Regions from separate parts of the Homo sapiens genome. Here all the other regions are linked to region 1. The links come from fine-mapping of genetic effects on gene expression. A gene starts in region 1. Each other region holds a variant in brackets. All regions are shown on one strand. Distances are from middle to middle. Region 1 holds the start of AKT3 (AKT serine/threonine kinase 3). Region 2 overlaps AKT3 (AKT serine/threonine kinase 3). Region 3 overlaps AKT3 (AKT serine/threonine kinase 3).

Region 1 (8,185 bases):
CAGGCACCTGGCCTGTGCCTTAAGAAAGACATCAGGACTTTGGGAGGCTGAGGTGGGCGGATCACGAGGTCAGGAGATCGAGACCATCCTGGCCAACATGGGGAAACCCCATCTCTACTAAAAATACAAAAATTAGCTGGGCGTGGTGGCAGGCGCCTGTAATCCCAGCTACTCGGGAGGCTGAAGCAGGAGAATCACTTGAACCCGAGAGGTGGAGTTGCAGTGAGCCGAGATCATGCCACTGCACTCCAGCCTGGTGACAGAGCCAGACTCTGTCTAAAAAAAAAAAAAAAAACAGAAAAACAGACAGACAGACAGACAGACATCAGGGAAAGGGAGAAAAAGACAATTAGTACTGATAACTATTGTAATGAACTGTGTGCCTTAGTCAGTTTGGGATGCTGTAAGAAAAATATCACAGATTGGGAGGCTTAACCAACAGAAATTTAAGCTATACTCCTTTAGAAATTGTTCTATTAATCATCTAGAATATATTCACTAATTACAGCTGTAGACTTAACGTGGTTATTTCAGAACCAACTGTGGCAGAGAGTGCCAATATAGATTTTTGTATTTGTTTGTAGCAGCTATTGTTAGTTTAACATAAATATATTCACATTTATGGTAAAGGAATCTTAGCTTGCTGACCACTCACTGTGTTTTAGATACTAATATTTCATAAAATTTAATTCACATAAGTTGTTGAAGTAGTTGTAACTGCCATTTCACAAATAAGGAAATATAAGGCTTAGAAAAATTAAGTAACTTGCCTGAGATGAGACAAACTCTGCAGAGAGAGGATTTGAACTCTGGTCTGCAAGTCTCCAAAGCACTTTTATGTTCTTTCCAATAAATCACGTTACATCCCAAGAGGAAAATACTATATAAACTGTACATAGTACACAGATTTATTAGAGCCGTCATTAGAACATTAGAACATGTATTTCTTCCACAAACAGGTATTCTGTGTCTGCTTTGTTCCATGCCCTCTCCTAGGATGACACACCCTTTCTATTAAGACAGAAGAGCAGTAACTTAATTTTTGTTATGTGATGCCCTGGTCTGAATTTTTGTGTTTCCCCAAATTCATAGATTGAAATCCTAACTTCCAAAGTGTGTTAGTAGATGGGGCCTTTGGGAGGTGATTAAGTCATGAGGGTTTGAGCCCTCAAGAATGGGATTAGTGCCCTTATAAAAGAGGCTCAAGATGGCTGGGAACATTAACTCATGCTGGTAGTCTCAGCTACTCAGGAGGCTGAGGCAGGAGGGTTGCCTGAGCCTAGGAGTTCCAGGCTACAGTGAGCTATGATCATGCCACTGCACTCCAGTCTGGGTGACAGAATGAGACACTGTCTCTAAAAAAAAAAAAAAAAAAAAAAAAAAAAAAAAAAAAAAAAACAAAGAAAAAGAAAAAGAGGTCCAAGAGAGTTCCCTCACTCTTTCTAAAATGTGAAGACACAGCAAGAAGTCACCACCTACAAACCAGGAAACGGAACCCTCTTTAGACACCAAATCTGCTGGTGCCATGATCTTGGACTTCCCAGCCTCCAGAACTGTTAGAAATAAATTTCTGTTCTTTATAAGCTACCTAGTTGATGGTATTTTGTTATAGCAGCCTGAATGGACTAAGACATTAGATGCTCTGAAATTCTAAATATCCTTCCAGTTTTAGTTACTCCCAAGAAATGGGGGAAGTACCAAGAAATAGCTCAGTATCAAACTTAGTCATTGGTAGTAAAGAAGAATGAACATTTTTCTTAAAATGAATAAATAACTAATACTGAGAAATGTTAATCTTAAGAATATTTGGTGTAATAAAGAATGAAGGCTTTCTTTGCAAAATTTAGGAGGGACATTCCCAGGGATGAACATGCTGGCTGCACTCCATATTACTGGATGTGATAACAAAATAGAGAAGAAATCTGCCACACACTCTGTATGGAGTACCGACATACCACAATCGGCAGATTCTACCAAATTCATACCGGCATAGTCTAAGAGAAAGAACAACGTTATTTAAATAAATAATATCCCTAATCAATAGTAATTCAATAACAAAATCAAACATGCTTTTATTATGGAAACTTATGAAACTACTATAGTCCACAAGCAAAAATTGAACAGAAATAAAAACTTATAATTCTTCAAATACATGAAGCCGAGAGTATATAATCCATTCTCACATACTGAATTTTAGGGTTTAATCCACCTAAGATTTAATGCAATCTGACCAGACTGGGAGAAATATTTTGAGGTAGTATGGCTCATAAGACACATTCAGTTCTTGTAAATATATTGATGTTAAATTTGGGAACAAATGAACATCTCACTGATAAGAGATATCTAGTAATTCAGTAATTCCGGATACTCTGACTCTCAAAAGTTAAGTATTTAAAGTTTCAGACACTCTTTTTAGTGCTGGTGTCATAAGGGACTATTTTCTTAAAAATAAAAAGCAAGTTGGGGTACTATGGAATAAAAATATGACCTATTTTTGTGTTTTACAGCAAGAAACCTGTAACCCAATAATTTTACCAATAGTGACTGTGAGAGGTCTGATAATTATGGGAATACATTATGTATATTTTATAGATACAACGAAAATAGGACAAAGTCTGTTTATTCATCAGCTCATAGCATGCTGGGAAATATGGGAAAAGGGGAAAGGCATGGTGCAGGACTTTCTCTCAGACGGACTGTGTTATCTTAAAATGGCAAATTTTGCTCCAGGGTGGTCAGGGAGACAAGTTTCCCTTACAAACGGAGAAAACTGACTTTTTTAAAAAACCCTTTTATTTGGTTTCCTACTCCTGTCCACAATCCCAACAGATGCACAGTTCATAAAAGATGTGAACCTGGAAGTATAAATATTAATACCACACAGTACATAAATACCAGGGGGCTACAGTATAAGAAAATGACTACCATAAGAGAGTTGTCAAGACATAGAAAAGCAGAGAATGAAGTGCATGTCAGGAGGAGGAACTCTTCTGCAGAAAGAAGCCACAGACATTAACAAAAATGTTGCAGTGGGAGAAAGTAACAGGTACATCAACAAGGCTAGAGCCACGTGGCGGGATAATAGGGATGCTGCCCAGGTGTTTCCAGAAGCGATAAAACTTGTAAACTTTTATAATTTTCTGAAGTGCGCTGCATGGTAAAATATGGTCATTGTGCAAAAAAGTTGTCCCCAATGCAGTCTCAGGAGTCACTGACTTCAAAATAAAGAAACGGTCTCTTCGTAGTAAATGTAGTACCTCGTGGCTTTCCCAAAGTCATTGAAAACGAATATCCCTAAAAAGGGTGTGATTTCAAGAGTGAATTACGATCCGCCCGCAATCTGTGTACCGTGTGTGGACGAATGCTTGCAGCGAGCGGTGCGGAAGGCTGTTCAGAGAGGTGTTTTTGGTCTGCCGTGGTCTCCTGGGATAGTCAGGAATGATTCTTGCTACGGGCTGACCCGGGTTCCCTCTTCCCCGAGGTGCAGGGGGTGGGGTCGGCTTCTGGACTGCTCCGCGCTCTCCGGTCCCTACCTCATTGGGCACCGCCCACTTCGTGGGCTTCCAGGTGCGAGCCCTCGCGCCGGGCCCATCTCCCCAAGGGGCCGCGGCGGACTGGAGGAGACGCCCGGGGCCTGGCGGCGCGCGCGTCCGCGGCCAGGGCGGGTGGGCGGATGCGCCGAGGAAGCGGCTGGGCGAGGAGCCTCCGCTCCCGGGCCTCGGGTGCCCGCCAAGGGCCACGCGGGCGAGGGGGAAACCCAGAACTTCCCGCCCGGGAGCGACTGCCCCCGCTCCCGGCTCTGGCTGGCTAGGGGGATGTTCTCGCGAGAGGAGAGGGGGCGCGGGGCACCGCTGGTTTGGGGGCGCGGGGAAGCCTGAGGACGAGGGCCGGGCAGGGAGGGGAGCAGAGGCGGCGGGCAGGGCCGGGGACGCGGGGAAGCCGCTCCCGCCAGTCGCCGAGAGCCAGCCCCTGACGTCAGGAGTTTTCCTCAAAGTCAACAACAAGCCCCGCGGCGACGGCGAGAACCGATCGGCGGCGGCCCCGAGCGGGAGGAAGGAGGGGGCGGGGAGGCGGCGGGGGGTCCCCTCAGCGAGGCGCAGCCCGGGAGGAGGCCGCAGAACCCCTCCCCGCGCCGGGCGCGCCCCGGGGCCCAGAGCCGCCGCCCCGCCGGCGTGACCCGGCCCCCGCCCGAGCGGTGTTTTCTGGTGATGAATTTGTAGCCGATATCCGATTCCCATGTAGAGTCTCCGCCTCCTCCTCTCCCCGCCGCCGCCCTCTCTCCTCCCTCCCCCTCCCGCCGCCGCCGCCGCCGCCGCCGCCTCCCGCTCCAGCTCCGCGGCCCGGCCCGGCCGGCTCCCTCCCTCCCTCCCCTGCAGCCCTTCGCTTGCCCTCCCGCCGGCCGCACCGGGCTCCAGGAGGCCAGAGGCTCTGTGGGGTGGGGGGAGGACAGGAGGGGAGGAGGAGGGAGGGGGGACCCCCGAGTCGCCCCCTCTCCTCCCCCCGCCCCCCCCCGGCTCCATCCTCCGCCGCCGCCCGAGCAGCTGCGGGGCCGCCACCGCCGCCGCCGCCGTTGCAGGTAACAGCCACCGCCCCCAACTCTAGCCCCCTCCCCGCCTGGCCTCCACTCCCTCCGGGCCCCGGGCCCCGGTCCGCCCTCCCTGCCTCCCTCAGGCGGGGGATGGCGGCGGGGTGGGGTGAGGCGGGGGCTTCTGGGTTGTCACCGCGCCGGGGGCGTGGGCGGGGGCTGGGTCACCGGAGGCTTCGGGTGTGGGTGTGGAGGCCGGGGGATGCCCAGCGCGGTTGACACCGACACCCCCCGCTTTCCGGGGAAAGCTGGGGGGCGGCGGTGCGCAGCGGGCCGGGGGAGGGGTGTTCCCGGCCTAGCGGTACCGTCTGTGTCTGGGCTGCCCCGGCCCGGCGCCTGCTGTCTGCGCAACTCTCGCTCCTTCCCCTCGCCCCTCCCCGCCCGGGCCGCGCGGCGTGGGGAGGGGGCGCCCGCCTGGACCGGGGGCGGCGGCGAGGTTATATAACGCGTGGAGCGCCGGTGTCAGTGTGTTTGGGTTGGGGGGAGGGAGCCGTCTGCCGCGCGCCCTGGCGCTGAGGCTGTCTGCGCGTGGGGTGGGGTGAAGGCGAGGATGCACAGGCGTCCCCGGGGTCTCCTTCCTTCCCCCACCCTTCCCCGCCACTGGCGCGCAGGAAAAGACGGCACTGGTGGGGTGGGGGGGGGGGTGTGTGTGTGGGAGGTGGGTAACGTGCTTGTCTGTGTTTTTAATAGTAGTGGGGTTTTGATCCGCTTGGGAGTTGTGTGCTAAGAATAGAAATGTGCGGAAGATGCTGGGTTTGGCTGATCCAGTGATGCTGTCGCTGCTGGCGGCGGCGGCAGCTCTGGCTGCAAGTAAACAGACCAGCCTCTTCCTTGTCCACCTCCTCCGGCGCATCGGTCCGCATCAGCCATGATGCCGGTGGGGCCCTTCAGAGCCCAAAGTTGAAGCCTAGCTGGTTGCTGTGTTGACCCTGACGCCGAGGCGGGGTCACCATCCCTTGTTTGGGATTTCCCGGGAATCTACAGTTAGCCTAGAGATAAAGAATCTCGTTGGGGCCAGGTTTTTCCAATACCGGTATTTACTGTTTATGTTCTGAAAGCAGAGGAAATGCTTACCCACAAGTCAAAGCTGGGATGCTCACATTTCTTCCATCAAAATAATGTTGTTATGAAAATAAAACCAACTCATTTCACCAATGTGGCATTTTGGTTGAAAGCCTGGTAGTTTGCAATTGATGAAGTTTCCAAATAGAAAGTCAACAGTGAAACCTATGCATCTATATTGGGTAATTTCTAGCCATAATAAAGTGTTCACACTTTGATTTTAGTTGAGGCTAAAGTAAAAAATAATGGCTTTTTGTAGTTAATACATTGGCAGTTGTCTCAACAGTTTAGACATGTGTTCCGTATTTGGTAAAGCATGGTCATATATGTCTTTTAGTAGAACTATACATCACTAGGCAACCACTGGGTTTTGTCAGTGGTTGAAGCTGACAAATGAGTGAAACTCATTGGTTTAGGTTATGTATTTACTTAGGAAAACGAAGGTGGAAGAGTCTAATAAAGATGGTGTAGGAAATGAAGATTAGTCTTCAGAACTTGAGTATCACTTGCAAAATATGTATAAACGAATACAAACATTCCGGGGGTGGTTGTCTAAAACATGAAAATATTTTATAATTAAAATAGCAACTTATTACTAAGTTACTAGTTTTCCAAGGTTTATGACTTAATGCACAATTATATGCAAGATATATATCCGGACTGTAATTGTTTTCCTTTTGCCAGTACATTATCTTGACTTGGAAAGTTTACCAAGGAGATAGTACTTGAAAGTTTACAGGGAGATGGTACTTGAAGATCTTTTTGTTTTCCTTACTAGGGTTGACCCCAATATCTTTGATTGGCTTGAGGTTCCAGTTTTAAAGTGAGGGAGGACAAATATTACATGAATGAGACTGTTGAAATTTAGATGAATGTAGGGTTTTAGTTTTCAGTTGTGTATTTGCATTGTGGTTTTGCAGCATGTTTTCTTACAGCGTTTTAAAAATAGTCCAAAGTAATCCTGCAAAAATTGTGAAATTATTATTTGTATTCATTTGGTTTTCTTTCCATAATTATTACTGGAGTGAATTGTTTTCCAATTTAAAATTAATTTTTGGCTTAATAATCTTGACATCGACTCTAAATTGTATATGTCAGAGTACTTTAAGGTTTTGCTTTGGACTTTTTAAAAATTAATTTCATAGCTGTAAAATATTTTAAATAAGATTATATTTAACAAATACTGGAGTGTGAACTGTGTGCTGGTTTAATTAAAAACTTTTAATATTTACATTTCATTCAGAAAATCACTGTCAGAAGGAATCTGTTTTCAGAATCACTGCAAATCTAAATAAACGTGTTGATTAAACTTACTAGGGAACAAATGGACTTAGCATAGAGACTTGTGGAAAGTAAGGACTTATTTTTTAAGCTGTAGCTTTTGATGTAAACATCAGAAATTTTCTCATAAAAATTCAGTGGAAATTTCCAGCTATCTGGGTTTCTTTAAAATGAGGAACCTGTTTTACAAATTGATTTTGTAGAAGTTTAGCCTTTACTTAAACTTTGTGTATTTTCGTGAAAAGATAGCTATGTTTTCTTTTGTTATTATATCTTTTAGTTCAAGAATTTGTCCTTGGGAAGGTAAGGCAATCACTGTTAACAACTTGTTAGTTGGATGCTTAGCATGATTTGATAGGAGCTTGTCTTTATAGTGTGATTAAGTTTTGAAGTGTTAAAAAGAAAAATTTAAAACTATCTTAGATTTGAGCAACAAAATGCAAGAACTGAAAAACCATTTTCATTTTGAGCAAATCAGTCTTGTGATCTGACTGGCATTTTTATTTTTAAGTTAATATGCATTAATAATACAATTAATTTTTGTTAGAAGATTTGTGTTACTCCAGGTTTCAGCATGTGCATCAGTATTTTAAATCCTGGTCACACAGCATACCTTCTTTTGGAAAGATAGTCCTGAATCTTCCGACAACAAATACTTTGTCCTGATCTTTTACATGGGATAGGATTAGATTCAGTTTAGAGTTAATGCTAACCAATGCCTGGTAAGCAGTTGCCATGTGCCAGGCACTGTTCTATGTGCTTTACCTGTATTCATTTAATCTTTCAAACAACCCCTGCTACACTTTTGAAAGTGATTTTCACATAAGAAAAACTTATTGTGGCATTCTAAAAATACCTTTTATTTAAACTTTCCTAATTCTGCAACACTTCTAGTGTTTTTCTTGTTTGTACCTATTATTACAGTTAACAGTGATAATTCTAAATTTGCAAAATTTGGTACAATAATTTCCATAGCATCAAGTTAATAAAAGTGTATTGACTGGCCCATTAACATCACCTTTCATTTGTTTAAAATGCCAAATTAAATAACTCAAATGTTTACAGATTTTATTATAGCATCATAGTCTTTAATCAAATTAGATGTAAACTCATTTTCTCTGCCAAGTAATCTTTGAATACTAATGGGTAGATAAAATTAATATATGCTTCTTGACTTGTTGATGTGTTTTTTAGTTCTGTTTCTTTTCAGTACTCTATCACCAACTACAGGTATTTCTCATTTCTAAATATTATGAG
Region 2 (8,185 bases), 250 kb after region 1:
GCTTGGGGCTTGCACCCTCTGAAGCAATGGCCTGAGCTGTACATTGGTCCCTTTTAGCCACAGCTGGGACTGAAGCAGTTGGGATGCAGGGCACCATGTCCCAAGGCTGCACAGAGCCGGGTTGGGGGGCCCTGCTTTTGGGCCCTGGCCCTGGCCCACAAAACTGTTTTTCCCTCCTAGGCCTCTGGGCCTATGATGGGAGGGGCTGCTGCAAAGGTCTCTGAAATGCCCTGAAGACATTTTCTCCTTTGTCTTGGTGATTAACATCTGGCTCCTTGTTACTTATGCCAACTTTTGCAGTGGGCTTGAATTTCTCCCCACAAAATGGGTTTTTCTTTTCTATTGTATTGTCAGGCTGCAAATTTTGCAAACTTTTCTTCTCCGCGTTCTCTTCAATGCTTTGCCACTTAGAAATTTCCTCCACCAGATACCCCCAAATCATCTCCTTCAAGTTCAAAGTTCCTTAGATCTCTAGGGCAGGGGCAAAATGCCACCATTCTCTTTGGTAAAGCATAGCAAGAGTCACCTTTACTCCACTTACCAGTAAGTTCCTCGTCTTCATCTGAGGCCACCTCAGCCTGGACTTTATTGTCCATATCACTGTCAGCATTTTGGTCAAAGCTATTCAACAAGTCTCTAGGAAGTTCCAAACTTTCTCACGTTTTTCTGTCTTCTTTTGAGCCCTCCATACTGTTCCAGCCTTGCCTGTTACCTGGTTGGAAAGCTGTTTTTACATTTTTGGGTATCTTTACAGCAGCACCACACTCTCTGTGGTACCAATGTACTGTATTAGTCCATTCTCTGTTCTCATGCTGCTGTGAACTGCCCGAGACTGGGTAATTTATAAAGGAAAGAGGTTTAATTGACTCAGTTCTGCAGGGCTGGGGAGACCTTAGGAAACCTACAATCGTGGTGAAAGGGGAAGCAAACATGTCCTTCTTCACATAGGAGCAGGAGAGAGAAGTGCTAAGCAAAGGAGGAAAAGCCCCTTATAAAACCATCAGATTTCATCAGAACTCACTCACTATCAGCAGAACAGCATGGAGATAACCAGCCCTGTGATTCAATTACCTTCCAGTGGATCCCTCCCACAACACATTGGGATTATGGGAACTACAGTTCAAGATGAGATTTGGGTGGGAACACAGCCAAACCATATCTGCCTACCAGCAAGTTTCTCAGGCCATATCCCAGTTGTTAAGTAATGCATGACTGTATTTGGAGCACTAAAAATTTTTGATGAAAGTGAATTGTGAAAGAAATGTTGGCTGTGAAAAATCAGCCCTAACTTCTTACGGTCGTATTGGTACAATGGAATTTCATCATAGTTGCATGTAATTTATATGAATTCAAAGAAGTGGGCTCAATAAGATATAGCTGAGATAGACAAGTTGATTTAAATGATGTGATTATTCTGCTCTTTTTCTCAATTTCTCAATGAGTGTATTTACAGAGTGACCTTAGGATGAGAGATATAAATTTGCTATTCTTTACTCCTTGTTACTTCCTACTTTCCATGCATAGAGCTTCATGGAATATAAACTCTGGTGTTTTAAAATACAAAACTTACATAAAATGTCATTGAGTGCATTGTAACTGCAGGTGTTCATTTAAAGAAACTATTTTCTGGCCAGGCCTGGTGGCTCATGCCTGTAATTCTGGTGCTTTGGGCAGCTGAGATAGGAGGATTGCTTGAGGCCAGGAGTTTGAGACCAGCCTGGCGAACATGGTGAGATCCCGTGTCAAAAAAAAAAAAAAGTTAGCCATGTATGGTGATGTGTACCTGTAGTCCTAGTAAATTAATCAGGAAAGCTGAGGTGGGAAGTTCACTTGAGCCGAGGAACTCAGGGTTATAGTGAGCCATGGTTGTGCTACTGCACTCCAGCGTGGGCAACAGAGTGAGACCCTGTCTCTAAAGAAAATAAAAGAAAAAAGACTATATTATTGTACCAAAGATAGAAAACTGTCCTGGGTTTAACTATGTCGAGAGATGACAGTATGTTGGTCTCCAGTGTAATACCGTTCTAAGGAATGTTTGGGAGTGATTTGATTATTTTTGATACCTTATGGATTAACTTTATAATCTAGTACATTATCATTCATCTATTAAATAATGAGCAACTTCTGTGGGCTAGACCTCAGAAGATTCATAAATAAGGAAAACATACTATTTTTCCTTTGATGAGTGACTTACTGGGGAGATAGATGAGAAAATACTTGTATACACTGCAGTGACATGGTTGCTCTGATAATACTGGTTACTGTGCATGGAGAGAATGAGCACTTTAATGAACCTGAGGAGCAGAGGAAAGGAAAGCAAAGGGTGCCAGAGTAGGAAACTCTTCTTAAAAAGTGGTTGCTAGGCTAAGACGTAAGAATAACTATACATTATATCACTAAGGTTGGGAAGGAGAGCATTCCTACACAGGTAAAATGGCATGTGTAGAGTACACAGGAGCAGACAGGTTCCCCCACCCACCGAATATAGCACAGTGTGGATAATGCATAGAGTTCTGCAGAGGAAAGCCAGAGAGTCTGCACAGGTAGTCAGAATCACATTAAGACAGATCTTCACTCTCAAGTCATTTAGATGAAGGCAGTGGAGCATCATGGAAGAATTTCTTTGGGGGAAATGTTTAGAAAGAATACTTGGCAGTATAGAGGTTGAAGTAGAGAGGACAAAAGTGGAAGCAAGGAAAATACTTGGGAGGTTGCTGCAGTTAGAAGGTTTTCAGTAATTCACTTATAAAAATGATAAGGTTGTCGGATGTGGTGGCTCATGCTTGGAATCTCAGCACTATGGGAGGCTGAGGTGGGTGGATCACCTGAGGCCAGGAGTTTGAGACCAGCCTGACCAACATGGAGAAACCCCGTCTGTACTAAAAATACAAAATTAGCCAGGCCTGGTGGCGCATGCCTGTAATCCCAGCTACTTGGGAGGCTGAGGCAGGAGAATTGCTTGAACCTGGGAGGTGGAGATTGCAGTGAGCCTAGATTGCACCATTGTGCTCCAGCCTGGGCAACAAGAGCAAAACTCCATCTCAAAAAAAAAAAAAAAAAAGATTATTAATTGAAGCAGTGTTAGAAGGAAGCAAATTCTAGTAATATTTAGTTATTAGAATCACCAGGATTTAATGAATAAATATGCAGAGAAGTATCATATGATTTCCTGTTTGCTGCTTGGGGAATTGTGGATACTGGAGTATTTATAAAAATAGAAAACACAGGGAGAAGAATGAGTTCTTAAGCAGATCATGCTATATTTGAGGCACCTAGTGTGGCAGCCAAGGAGTGGGGAGAGTTAAATCAGAGATACAAATAGGCATCATGAGCAGT[G/A]TTAAAACCCAGGAAGTGAGGAAATATCCAATGTGAGGAAAGTATGTACAGTTAGAACATCAGTGGCCAAGGATGGTGCCTGGAAATGCCAGAGTAAGGCATGCTGTAGACACAGCTGTAGATGCAGTGAGACTAGTGCACAGGTGTAGAGGCAGAGAGAAGCCTAAGGAGGATCCTGGGCAGGAGGAGCCAGACAAGAGAAGCCTTAGAAGTTAAGGAGAGATTAGGTACAACAGAGTATATTAAATACTGTACAATGATAACTGAGAATTGTCCATTGGATTTGCCATCTAATAGTTCCTATGGAGACTACCAGGGATTCTTCCTTTTCTGGTTTGGTACAAGGTATGCACCTTGGCTGTAGTACAGAATGTAAAAGGGTTGGTTTGGAGCCCAGTAGAACAAGGTTGTAAGAGTGAGTTCAGTGCAATTTCAGTGGGGCATTTGTAGAACTGATTGTAAAATCTCTCTAATAATATGACCAATCACACTGCTAATATATCCAGGCAGCTCTCTTTTTATTCCTTAAATGTTACTAAATTTACATGAGAAGCAGAAAAATATCCTGGGAGAATAAAGTAGACAAAATTGACTAAGGAGGTGTTTTTGTTTTCTTTGGTTTAGGAAGTCTCTACTTAGGACTTGTTTCCAAAATCTTACTCATAGCTTCATTTATTTCAGGCTTATTTGTTGGACCTCTGCAAATCTCTCTCAAGTCTGAAGTTTCCTGAAGTTAAAGATTCATTAGGGGAGTAAAGGAAAATCATTGTGTAGAAATGCTATTCATCTGATAAATTCTTCACATTCCTCTATTTTCTTTATGTAGGTTGTAATGAAGCTAACAGTTTCAGTTATGTACTACTATTTTTGTCCATACTTAGTTCATTGTAAACTCTATATTAATTTCTTTGATAACATGTATTTGATTTTTTTGCAATACGGCTTTCAGGTTCTTGCCATTCTTGAGATTCTCATGCTTATTCAGATTTCTCATTTGGCTGGCATTTTGTTATCAGTGAACCAAAATTATCTCATTTTAAATTCACATAAGACAAAAGCACCAGTAGTCAGTATTCTAGTTCTCCTTACTAATTTACGGAGGTGTGATCTGGGTGATTTTTAAATTAATTTAATTATCATTTCATATTCATAGTGATGATTTTTAAAATTTTACAAAGTTTTCAGGTATATAAACATCTTTATTGTCAGGTGTCTGACAAGCTAATTTCTTTGCTAACTATTTTAGTTATTAATATATTATGTAGGTTGTATCAGAATTTTGTTTTTCACCCAATGCTTTTTCAAAATTCCCAAGTCAAGAAGGATGCATTACAATGTTTACATTAGCATCTAAAGGCAATGTAAAGTCGGGAAGCATTTTTAGTATATAATTTCATAATTCAAAGACATTTTTAAAAAATGAATGGTTAAACCAGTATCTCACTGCATTAAATGTAATTGAATGCATTGAATTTAGTTATTAGGAGATGTTATTACAAGCCTCAACATGTAACATGCTTGCTTACAAATCTAAAATCTCAGATCAAGTGGCTGGAACTGCAGGGGCCTGCCAGGCATCTGGGTATTTACATGATTCCTTTCCATGTGGTTATGGCAGAGCATGGCCATTTCAAGGTAGTCAAACTTCTTACACAAAGGCTGGCTTACCACAGAGTGGGTATTTCAAGGGAGGGAAAACAGAAGAAGCAACATATGTATAATTGGAAACCCTGAGGAGGAAAAAGAGGGCAGTGACACAAAACAGTATTTAAATATCAAAAACTATAATCTGAAAACATACTTACAGGCTTTTGTGTTCTCCATTTTTCACTTAGCATAATACTTTTAAAATTTATAGATACTGTTCCATATATCAGTAGTTTGTTTCTTTTTATGGCTTTGCTCCGTTGTGTGATGTACAGTCATATGTTTATATAGTTGCCCCTGGATAGACGTTTGGGTTCTTTACATTTTGGGCCTATTAGAATAAAAGCTCGTGAATATTCCAGTACAAATCTGTGTGTGAATATATATTTTTAATCTTCTTGGGTAAATACATAGAAATGCAATTTCTGTGTCATTTGTTATGATCAACTTCATTAAAAACTGCAGACTCTTTTCAAAATCAGCCATACCATTTTGCATTCCCAGGATGTTACTTGACAACATCACCACACTTGGCATGGTAGTCTTTTTAAATTTTACTCATTCTGGTGGATGTATAGTGGTATTTTTTAGCTTCAATTTGAATTTCTCAAATAACTAATGATATTGAACTTCTTTTCTTATTCTGATTTGCCATTTATACATCATCTTTTTTGAAGTATCTTAAAATCTTTTGTCTGTTTTAAAAATTAGGTTGTTGTCTTAATATTGAGTTGTCAGATTTATTTATTTCATGTAAGGGCTTTATCATATATATATTTTATAAATATTTTCTCCCATTTTATAGTTTGTCTTTTCATTTCATAATGGGAAATTGTTCCAAAATACACTTTTGTTGTAATCTATTGTAATCAGCATTTTAATGCATAGTTAGCATTCAGTAAAATTAATCAATTTTGACTGTACAATTTAGTGAGTTTTGACAGCTGTATAAAGCAGTTTCCCATCACCACAATCATGATCTAGAATGTTTCTTTCACAACAGAGCCTCGCATGTCTCTTTAAAGTCAATTCTCTCCCCTCACTCTCACCCTGAAAACCACTGATAGGCTTTCCAACCAGTATGAAGGGCAGACTTCTAAATTAGAGGAAACACAATTCATTGATTATTTTCTCTTATGATTTGTACATTTTGTTTTTAAAACATCTTTTTCTAACTGAAGTTTGTTAAGATTTTTTTCTAAAGTCAAAGCTAGACCTGTTGGGTGGTGGCAGGTCGGGGAGATTTTCTTTTATGCTTTCTTCTAGAAGTGTTAATAGTTTTAGCTCTTGCATTTAGGTCTATGAGCCATTTCAAGTTAATTTTAATGTATACTGCTACATAAGGGTCATGTTTCATTTGTTTCTTGCAAAGTGATATCTAACTGTTCCAGCATATTTGTTGAAAAGACTGTCTTTCTCCCATTGAATGATTTGGTACCCTTGTCAAAAATCAGTCATATATGTGTGGGTCGATTTCTGGACTCTGCATTCTGTTGTATTGGTCTATATCTATCCTGAAACCTATACCACACTGTCTTCACTATGCCACACACTTACTTTAGAATAAGTGTTAAAATCAGGCAGCTTGAATCTTTCAATTTTGATATTCTTTTTAAATTTGGTTTTGCTATCCAATTTCCTTTGCATTTCCACATAAATTATAGAGTAAGCTTGTTGAATTCTACATAAAAGCCTCCTGGATTTTAATTGTGATTGTGTTAAATCTGTTGATCAATTTGGGGAGAATTGACAGTTTCACAGTGTTGTCTTCTGATTCATAAATATGGTATATGTTTTCCCATTATTTAAGTCTTTAATTTCTTTCAACAATATTATGTAGTTTTTAGTGTACAGGTCTTGAAAGTTTTAAAAATTTATCCTTAGGGATACTTTATAATTATTTTATGTTTTTAAGTTATAAATGGTTTATCAGTCATTATTAAAAATTTCAATTTGTAGTTGATTCTTGCTAATATATAGACATACAGTTGATGTTTACTTATTAGCCATACTAATATTAGTTTTAGTAGTCTTTTATTGTAAATATATTGGATTTCTCTATGTAGATGATCATGTCAGGTGAGAACAAAGACAGTTTTACTGCTATTTTCTAATATGTGTACATTTCCTTGCCTTATTAAACTATCCAGGATGTTTAGAACAGTGTTAAAGAGCAGGATAAGAGCAAATATCCTTGCTTTATACCTAATTTTAGGGCAGAAGCATTCATACTGTCACCATTAACCATGTTGTTAGCTGTAGATTTTTCGTAGATGCTCTTTATTAAAAGTTGAAGAATTTCTATTAGTAATTTGATGAGTTTAAATAATCTTAGTTTGATTAGCTCTGCTTCTTTGTTCTTATGGTGGTAGCTTTAGGGTTTAGAATATGTATCTTTTCTCATCACGGTAGACTTTCAAACAATATGCTGTGTCACTTTACCTGTACTGTAAGAACCTTATAACAGCATACGTCTATTTTCTTACCTTCTATCTGAACCTTAAAAGGCATACATCTGTTTCCCTGCCTTCTGTCTTTTGTGCAGTTGTTCTCAGACATTTTACTTCCATGTATTTTTTAACCTTTACAATACACTGTTTTTGCCTTAAGCAATTATCTTTAAAATAATTTTTAATAGAAAAAATGTTTTATATTCATAAAGTAGTCATTTTAAGTGTTCTCTTTTCCTTTGTGTTGGTATACATTTTCATCTATTACATTTTCCTTTTGCATAAAAACTTCCTTTAGCATTTGTTTTTGTAGTGCAGGTCTGATAGCCGTAACTTTTGTTAGCTTTTATTTGTGTGAGAAAATCTGCATTTTGTCTTAAGATGTTTCCCTTTCTTTAAAACAGTTTTGCTGAGTTAATAACAAATTATAAATAATTTGTACATATTTAAAGTGTACAATCTGATAACTTTTGACCCATGAAATCATCACCACGATAAAAATAACATCCCCACAAATGTTCTCCTATACAGGAGATTTTAGGAGGAAAGGTGCATTTGAACTAAATCTTCAAGAACAGGTATGTTCCCCAAATAAGATTAGCTCATTCAATCAAAAGTATGTATTAAATGCTTACTGCGTTCGCTAGGATGAATAAAACAGTCATGATTTCTAGAAGGAGATGCATATTATAAAATAATAAAACAAAATAAACCCAATAAATATAATGGCAACAGAGTGCTGTAGTATGAGA
Region 3 (8,185 bases), 350 kb after region 1:
TTTTATTGCTCAATCTCTAGGACTTCTAAAATGAGACTGAAATGTTAGAAGGTGTTAGAAGTCCCCCAGCACAGTTTCTAGAACATAATTTGAACCTAGTTCCTTGGCTTCATTAATCAGCAATATAAAAGCCATCAAGAATGTTTTTCCTGGCATGTCATATTTTACCACTGACAGCACCTCTGTTCTTAAATAACATGTGTCATTTCAGACATGGATCATGCTGTAAAAGCCCTACAACCTTGGTGTCTTTAAATGATAATAGGTTCACTTCTAGATTGAGACAGAGATACCTAGGAAGCCTGTACATTGTAGTAACTTTCAAGATGGTTATCAAAATCCACCTGCAATTGTAGGACCACAAAAGTCTGGCTTTTGTCTAGGCGCAGTGGTGCACACCTGTAATCCCAGCACTTTGGGAGGCCAAGGCGGGTGGATCACTTGAGGTCAGGAGGAGTCTGAGACTAGCCTGGCCAACATGGTGAAACCCCCTCTCTACAAAAAAAAATACAAAAATTAGCCAGACGTGGTGGTGCATTCCTGTGATTCCAGCCACTCGGGAGGCTGAGGCAGGAGGATCGCTTGAACCCGGGAGGCAGAAGCTGCACTGAGCTGAGATCACAACATTGCCCTCCAGTCTGGGTGACAGAGCAAGACTCTGTCTTTTAAAAAAAAAAAAAAAAAAAAAAAAAAGTCTGGCTTTTGTGGGTGTCAGAAATGGGGTGTGGTCCTGCCCTGCTCCTGGGCCCTGGACAGTACGGAAACGAGAGCCCAGCAATGTCATCTGTTTCTGACAGGGCACACCGCAATTGAGGGGTGGGGAGGGCGCTATGGACTTGCTGTGTTTTTCCCTATTCAGGACCTCTGTAGCAAGGAAAGTCAGACGGAAGAGCTCAGCAGAGTATGCCCAGGCAAAGACTAGCATCGACGCATCTGCAGGCACCTCTGTTCAGCAGCCTCTCCTGCTGTCTGTGTGGCTCAGCAGAGCGCAGCGCTCAGCACTGGGGGCCATGGGGCCCTGGGCTTCCTGTCTTAGGGGAGCAGCCTTGATGGTGGTTAACTGCAGCTTCTGGGTTCTTCTAGGGCAACGGGGCAGTATTTTTAGTTTGACAGTTCCTGGATACATCCTAGATTCCCTTAAGGAGCAGATAAAATGAGAATCACTGAAACCTTGAACGGTGATTACATTCAACATAACCTTTTTCTTGCAGCTTTGAATAGTTTAACTGGTAAGAAACCGTTGCAGCTCCCTAAGTGCTAACACACAGAGGTTTTGTTGATAAAAGTCCAGGGTAGTACCATTCGTTAGCAATTGTCTTCCCACTTGCCACCTTGCTTGTATAAAACAGAATACAGTTATTGTTTAGAACAAATCAGCAGTTAGAAAGGCAAAATGTTCCATTTTCTACAAACAGCTGCAGTGACATGCCAGATTGTCCTCACTGGCGTTAATAATGGAACAGATTTGGGAATGTGTCATCTTTCGTTATCGCCATTGATGGTCCTCCTCCTTCCTCTTACAGAAAAAGAGGGTTTCTTTGAGATCTGGTCGCTTTTACTGCCATATAATGCCATTTGTTAAATGTTCTAAGAAAATCAGGCAACTGATGTTCCTTGGATGCAGGGATTCAAGGGATGTAGCAAGTAGAGTTGATCATTGTCTTCTTTTTCCAGATAAGTGTTTTTGAAAAACATAGTTCATGTTCATTATCATCACTATTCCCTATGCACAGCCTCTCACAGCAGGAACTAACTTGTGTACATTGACAGGCTCCGACTCAGAGTCAGCTGCCACTTCCTCCAGCTCCCCTCCCACCGCAGCCCCTGCCCAGGCTCTCAGCTCTTTTAGGGCCATGATCAGATGTTCACGCCTCATTGTTTCCAAGCCTGACAACAGAAAGGGGCAGGAATGATGGAGGGAGATCATTGGCTTTAAAGAATATCAAGGATTGGGGCCCTCAGGGATATCTGTGAAATTTCCTAGATTCAGAATTGTGATGAATGTGTTACTGAAGTGACAGAATGAAGGCTGTCTCTCAATTCTTAGCTGACACCAGCAAGAGTCCCTCCTCTTCCAAAAGGGTGTCTAGCACCTGCCCCTGTTGAGCATCTGGCTAACCTGGGTGCTGAACCTCGCCGGGCTGGAATGAGTCCTGGCCATGGCCCCAGGAGTCCAGGCAGCTCCTGCCCTTCCTGGCTGAGCAGGACAAGCACCAGGCTCCCCACTGCTGTCCAGAGCCAGCTGCAGGTTTGCTGTGCAGAAACACTGAGTAAAATAAAGCTGTTGGTGAGGAAAATTGTTTATTTGAAATGTGATTGGCTCATGTCAGAATCTGAACATTAAGGTTTTAGCTGCCCGTATTCTCTAGAGAGTTTTTATACTCTGGGGCTCAACCACGGGTACACCATCATTCCCAGCTCCTTCCGTTTTTACTGTAGCTAAAAATACTGCTGAAGGTATTTGATCTAAAAGATGTGTGTGACTTGCTTGGTACAAATATTGGAACCAATAACTTTATAAGGAGGTAGAGATTTCCCCAAATCTCAATACCTTCTAGAAATGCTGACTGCAGTTACAGTGGTCTATTTGCAGAAGAAGAGAGGGCCTCCGAGTTCAGTGTCTTACACAGAGCAGGGAGCCACAAATGCTTCTTGATGGATCAGTTCTCACCTAATACGAGGATATCTTCTGGTACATTAGGGGTCAGAAATTTTGGCTAATGCCAGCTTGATCCCATTTCTAGAATCTTCTGCATTAAGAGTGGGATACAGAAAAGAAAAACAGTGATACAAGAATGGAAGTGTTTATTCTTCAGACAAAGGCAGAGCCCCCTCCTCTTCGGAGTGACAGAGTCAGAGCCTCAGTGCAGTGGGATCTGGCCTGTATGCTTTCTTTGTTTACACCCACATCCAGCGGATGCTCCCTGGAGAGGTTAGAATATTCAAAAAAATTGGTAATGTACTTCCTATATGGGTTTGAGGACATCGAATTATTTTGCTTGAAGAGAAAAGGGTTGAGTATTGGAAAGATTCACTGATTTCCATTGCAGGACAGCATATGATTAAACAAGCTTAGAGGCAAGCACGGGGGATTTAAAATGGAGCACCTCCCCCAGGAGACTGTGAGGCCAGGGGGCCCTTGGGACTTTGTTCAAAGTTCTGCGGTCCTTGGGCCTGACGGGTGCTCAGCCCAGAGCAGATGCGTGGGAGCGCATGTTGACTGAGTGGCTGACCACGTGGCCACATACCAGGAAGAGCTTCCAACAGCACAGGACTGTCATCACAGGACATTTATGAGAACAGGGTGCTGATCATCTGTGATCTTTGAAATACAGGAAACCAGGAAAGCTGACAGGAGGAACACTGTGATTGTCAGCGGCCTGTTTTGATGCCTTTCAAGTCTCTTCCATTGTTTCCTGATGAGCTAGGACTCAGATGTTGACATCCTTCCCTCTTTTTCTTTCACTTAGTCCCTTCATGCTAAAGTTTTATCATAGGGAAATTGGGAAAGGTGAGTTAAGCCAGATGCTAGATGTTGAATGAAATTTCATAAGAAGCTTTATTTTGCAGTTGCACTTAAAGCATCACAAAGAAAAAATATAAGCACTTGAAGACATTCGATGATGAATTCTATACAGACTTTGGATGCTGTGGATTTCACTGACTTGCAGTTTTGATATATGTGGTTACATGAAATGAAAGGTTACTGAAGACTGCTCCTTCTTAAAAACTTCTGTTTTCTTCAATACCATTTTTTTCACTGTTTCATTGAGTCTTGAAATTTTGATGTCTTAGAGATGATTCTATAGTATTATTTCTTCATAGACTATGTATTTATGAAAATCAGATGATTTTTGAAGTATAATTACTCTACAGCTTATTGATGAACACAAGTTTATGGGAGCTATTGCCTCTGTTCATCTTTCCTATGTTCAGAGTTTAAAAAACATAGACTAGAGATAATGTTGCAAAAAATGAATGTGTAAAATTAAAATAGATGTTTCCTGCCCACAGATGATGAGGATGGTATGGACTGCATGGACAATGAGAGGCGGCCGCATTTCCCTCAATTTTCCTACTCTGCAAGTGGACGAGAATAAGTCTCTTTCATTCTGCTACTTCACTGTCATCTTCAATTTATTACTGAAAATGATTCCTGGACATCACCAGTCCTAGCTCTTACACATAGCAGGGGCACCTTCCGACATCCCAGACCAGCCAAGGGTCCTCACCCCTCGCCACCTTTCACCCTCATGAAAACACACATACACGCAAATACACTCCAGTTTTTGTTTTTGCATGAAATTGTATCTCAGTCTAAGGTCTCATGCTGTTGCTGCTACTGTCTTACTATTATAGCAACTTTAAGAAGTAATTTTCCAACCTTTGGAAGTCATGAGCCCACCATTGTTCATTTGTGCACCAATTATCATCTTTTGATCTTTTAGTTTTTCCCTCAGTGAAGGCTAAATGAGATACACTGATTCTAGGTACATTTTTTAACTTTCTAGAAGAGAAAAACTAACTAGACTAAGAAGATTTAGTTTATAAATTCAGAACAAGCAATTGTGGAAGGGTGGTGGCGTGCATATGTAAAGCACATCAGATCCGTGCGTGAAGTAGGCATATATCACTAAGCTGTGGCTGGAATTGATTAGGAAGCATTTGGTAGAAGGACTGAACAACTGTTGGGATATATATATATATATATAATTTTTTTTTTTTAAATTCCTGGTGGATACTGTAGAAG[A/C]AGCCCATATCACATGTGGATGTCGAGACTTCACGGGCAATCATGAGCAAGTGAACACTGTTCTACCAAGAACTGAAGGCATATGCACAGTCAAGGTCACTTAAAGGGTCTTATGAAACAATTTGAGCCAGAGAGCATCTTTCCCCTGTGCTTGGAAACCTTTTTTCCTTCTTGACATTTATCACCTCTGATGGCTGAAGAATGTAGACAGGTATAATGATACTGCTTTTCACCAAAATTTCTACACCAAGGTAAACAGGTGTTTGCCTTATTTAATTTTTTACTTTCAGTTCTACGTGAATTAGCTTTTTCTCAGATGTTGAAACTTTGAATGTCCTTTTATGATTTTGTTTATATTGCAGTAGTATTTATTTTTTAGTGATGAGAATTGTATGTCATGTTAGCAAACGCAGCTCCAACTTATATAAAATAGACTTACTGCAGTTACTTTTGACCCATGTGCAAGGATTGTACACGCTGATGAGAATCATGCACTTTTTCTCCTCTGTTAAAAAAAATGATAAGGCTCTGAAATGGAATATATTGGTTAGAATTTGGCTTTGGGAGAAGAGATGCTGCCATTTAACCCCTTGGTACTGAAAATGAGAAAATCCCCAACTATGCATGCCAAGGGGTTAATGAAACAAATAGCTGTTGACGTTTGCTCATTTAAGAATTTGAAACGTTATGATGACCTGGCAACAAAAAGTAATGAAGAAAATTGAGACCTGAGTGAAGATAAGAAATGATCTTTACGTGGCAAAATGAACACATCTTGAGTATTTAGGAAATGGGCAGTGAAGGCTAAGAACCTGGTGTGTTTCTTGGGATCATGGTACATTTATCACTGAATTAAGCCATCAGGGAAAAAACAACAAAAAAAGAGAACACCTCCAGCTTTTCTTTTTCTGTATATACTCATGTCCCCCAGATTCCAACATTTCTCACTGAAAGGGGGCATGTATGCAAACCTCATCTTTCTCCTTCATTAATGATGATCTTCAGATTAAACCCTTTGGTGCTAGGAGCTGACAATTTCCAAAGCAGCCTGTGAAGTCCTAGGGGCTGGGGGCCACTCTTGCGGCAAGCAGAAGGCCATCCTACTCCGCGGAGTGATCATGGAAATGTATTTTAGTTAAACTCTGACAGCTCCCAAACGGAAGACTACAGCATGACGTAGTATTATGATTGCATTGTATGAAAGAGCAAGTGACTTTCTAAGTAGGATGAATCATATTCATATGCAGATGTCTTAGCCTCTTGACGCTGGAAGTGTGGATTTATAGCTATGAAACCACTGCTGGCAGTGGGTGGGCCACTGGGACTGACGGGGGTTAAAGGGCATTTTACTAAGGCAGCTAAGACATATTCAGACATCAACGTTATCCTTCTTTTTCATATTTCTACCTGAGTGAAGTTCATCCTTAGTATTGAGTAGGAAGTTACAGTAAATGGTAGTTCATTCTTACTTACACACATAGCTAATCTTTTTTTTTTCACTTGGAATTATGTTGAATGTTTCATTTTGACAAAAAAGTAGACTAGAAGGTATGTTCTTTAAGTTGTCTTGCATCCATTATATAAGAAAGAAACAGGTGAGAGGAAGAGCAGAAAGCTGAGACTGGCTGATGTTCAGAGCACTTACTCCTCTAGAGGGAAAGCATGACACCGAACACTAAGCACACAGCTTTTTGTTGTTTTGGTTTTTTCTCCCGCAAATCTTAAAGTGATTCCCATGACCTTGGCCAAGGACACTTCTTAAAGATTAATGACTGGCACTGACATTGCCCCAGGCGGGCCACTCCTCACACTGGCTCTCAGTTCCCAGCCATGCCTGGGGCTCAGTCACTTCTATTCCACCCTCTGAGACTCCATTGGTGTCACACAAGGTGTCTTCTTGGCTTTGATTTTGAGAATCCCCTATTTTCACTTCCAGATCTGTCAGCTGCCATGGAGGAATAATAGAAAACCAGAAATGCGTGTAGAGGGAGATTTCTAAAACTTCCCTTGTGTCGCCCATAGTTGTAGTTTTGGGTTCTGGCAGGTGGAACACCCTGAAACCTGGAATCATTCTATGAGAATACAGTTCAGACTTTGCAGACTCCAGCCCATACTAACTGTCATGAAGCTTGACTTCTTGTCATAATGCAGCCATCTTGGAGGAAATTGGCCATTTCTGCTTAGATGGTTGGCAGGGTCGCGCTCAGCTTTGCTTTCTACACTAATTACATAGCATTATTCAAGTATTGTTTTCCATTTCCCATCCCTGATTTCCAGCTTCTTAAAGCTGACTGTTCTTGCAGGGGCCACTTGCTTCTCCTAGAGTACAAAAGTAAGGGCCTTCCTTACTAACTGCAGGGTCTCTCTATTACACCTCAACATACACACTTTGCTGCTACTGTTTGTACTGTCTACAGTAGAATTTCCTTATCTTGCTCCTGGTAGTGCATTACAGGCAAGCATGAAATGTAAAGTATTTATTTAAATAAAAAGAAAACCTCTAAATTGGTAATTGAATTACCTCCCTGTAGCTTTATAGTTTGTGACATTTCTTGACCTTGCTAGTTCTTTCATTAGATCTGCGCAAGATCTAGTCATCTGGTTAAGGATTTTAAGCAGATGCAACTATAAACCCAAGAAACTGTATTACTATTACTGTTGGTCATACTAAACCTGTCTATTTCCTGAAGTATATGACCCACAAGGATGTGGAATAACTAGGAGAAACTGTTTTTGTACACTGTACATCCTTAGTATTTTTACACGTATATGATAGGGATGAACATGATTTTCCTTCGTACAGACAGCTTAAATAAAGCACTATGTCAATCTGCTACTTCTCTGTTTATTGTTGTTGGATGTGGTTCTATAATCCCCCCAAATTAAATCTTCTTTAATGAAAACATGATTTTTAATAGCCCCAGCTGGTATTAACCTACCTTGTATAAAATGTGACAGGAAAATATAGAAATAATTCCTTGTAGCTCACACACACACACATAGGGGATCATTTTTACTTCAGTGAAATGGCAGTAGTGCGGTTGTGCAAACTTTGATGAACGGCTGCTTCTGAGGGGAAACGCTGACCTCTCAGCACTGGATTTAGGATGGATGTACTGTGAAGCCAGGGATGAAGGAGGTCTCAGACCCTGGGGACATTCAGACCCGAATCATCTATACAACACACGGTTTGGACCCAGAATCTGAAGGAATGTAGCTTTTCATTAACGTCTTCCTGATAATGTACTGCTCTGCATATTTCCTTTCTTAGAGTGTATTTCTAACAACATGTCATGGCAAATTAACAAACTTAGACGTGGGTGATGTAGATGGGTAGGATGGCTGGACTGCAGTCTGACTTCACGTTGAATCATTCTGGATGGGGCCTTTTTCTGATTTTACCTCATAAAGCTACTATTGTAGAAACTTGGCTTT

What was found.
Region 2: its variant is fine-mapped to the expression of AKT3 in lung (TOPMed, PIP 0.95).
Region 3: its variant is fine-mapped to the expression of AKT3 in whole blood (TOPMed, PIP 0.91).

Annotation. Positions count from the first base shown.
Region 1 is chr1:243,846,431-243,854,615 of GRCh38, reverse strand. AKT3 (AKT serine/threonine kinase 3) reads left to right here and starts at 4,373. Exons shown (of 14, transcript NM_005465.7): 1 at 4,373-4,576. RefSeq lists an enhancer at 4,964-5,464.
Region 2 is chr1:243,598,771-243,606,955 of GRCh38, reverse strand. The region is part of intron 8 of AKT3 (AKT serine/threonine kinase 3); the gene reads left to right. Among named protein-coding and RNA genes, the nearest start is that of AKT3-IT1, 190 kb to the left of the region's middle. The variant G/A (reference allele first, on the strand shown) is at 3,337.
Region 3 is chr1:243,501,164-243,509,348 of GRCh38, reverse strand. It overlaps AKT3 (AKT serine/threonine kinase 3), which reads left to right. Exons shown (of 14, transcript NM_005465.7): 14 at 4,015-8,185. The coding sequence ends at 4,100. Among named protein-coding and RNA genes, the nearest start is that of MIR4677, 160 kb to the right of the region's middle. The variant A/C (reference allele first, on the strand shown) is at 4,751.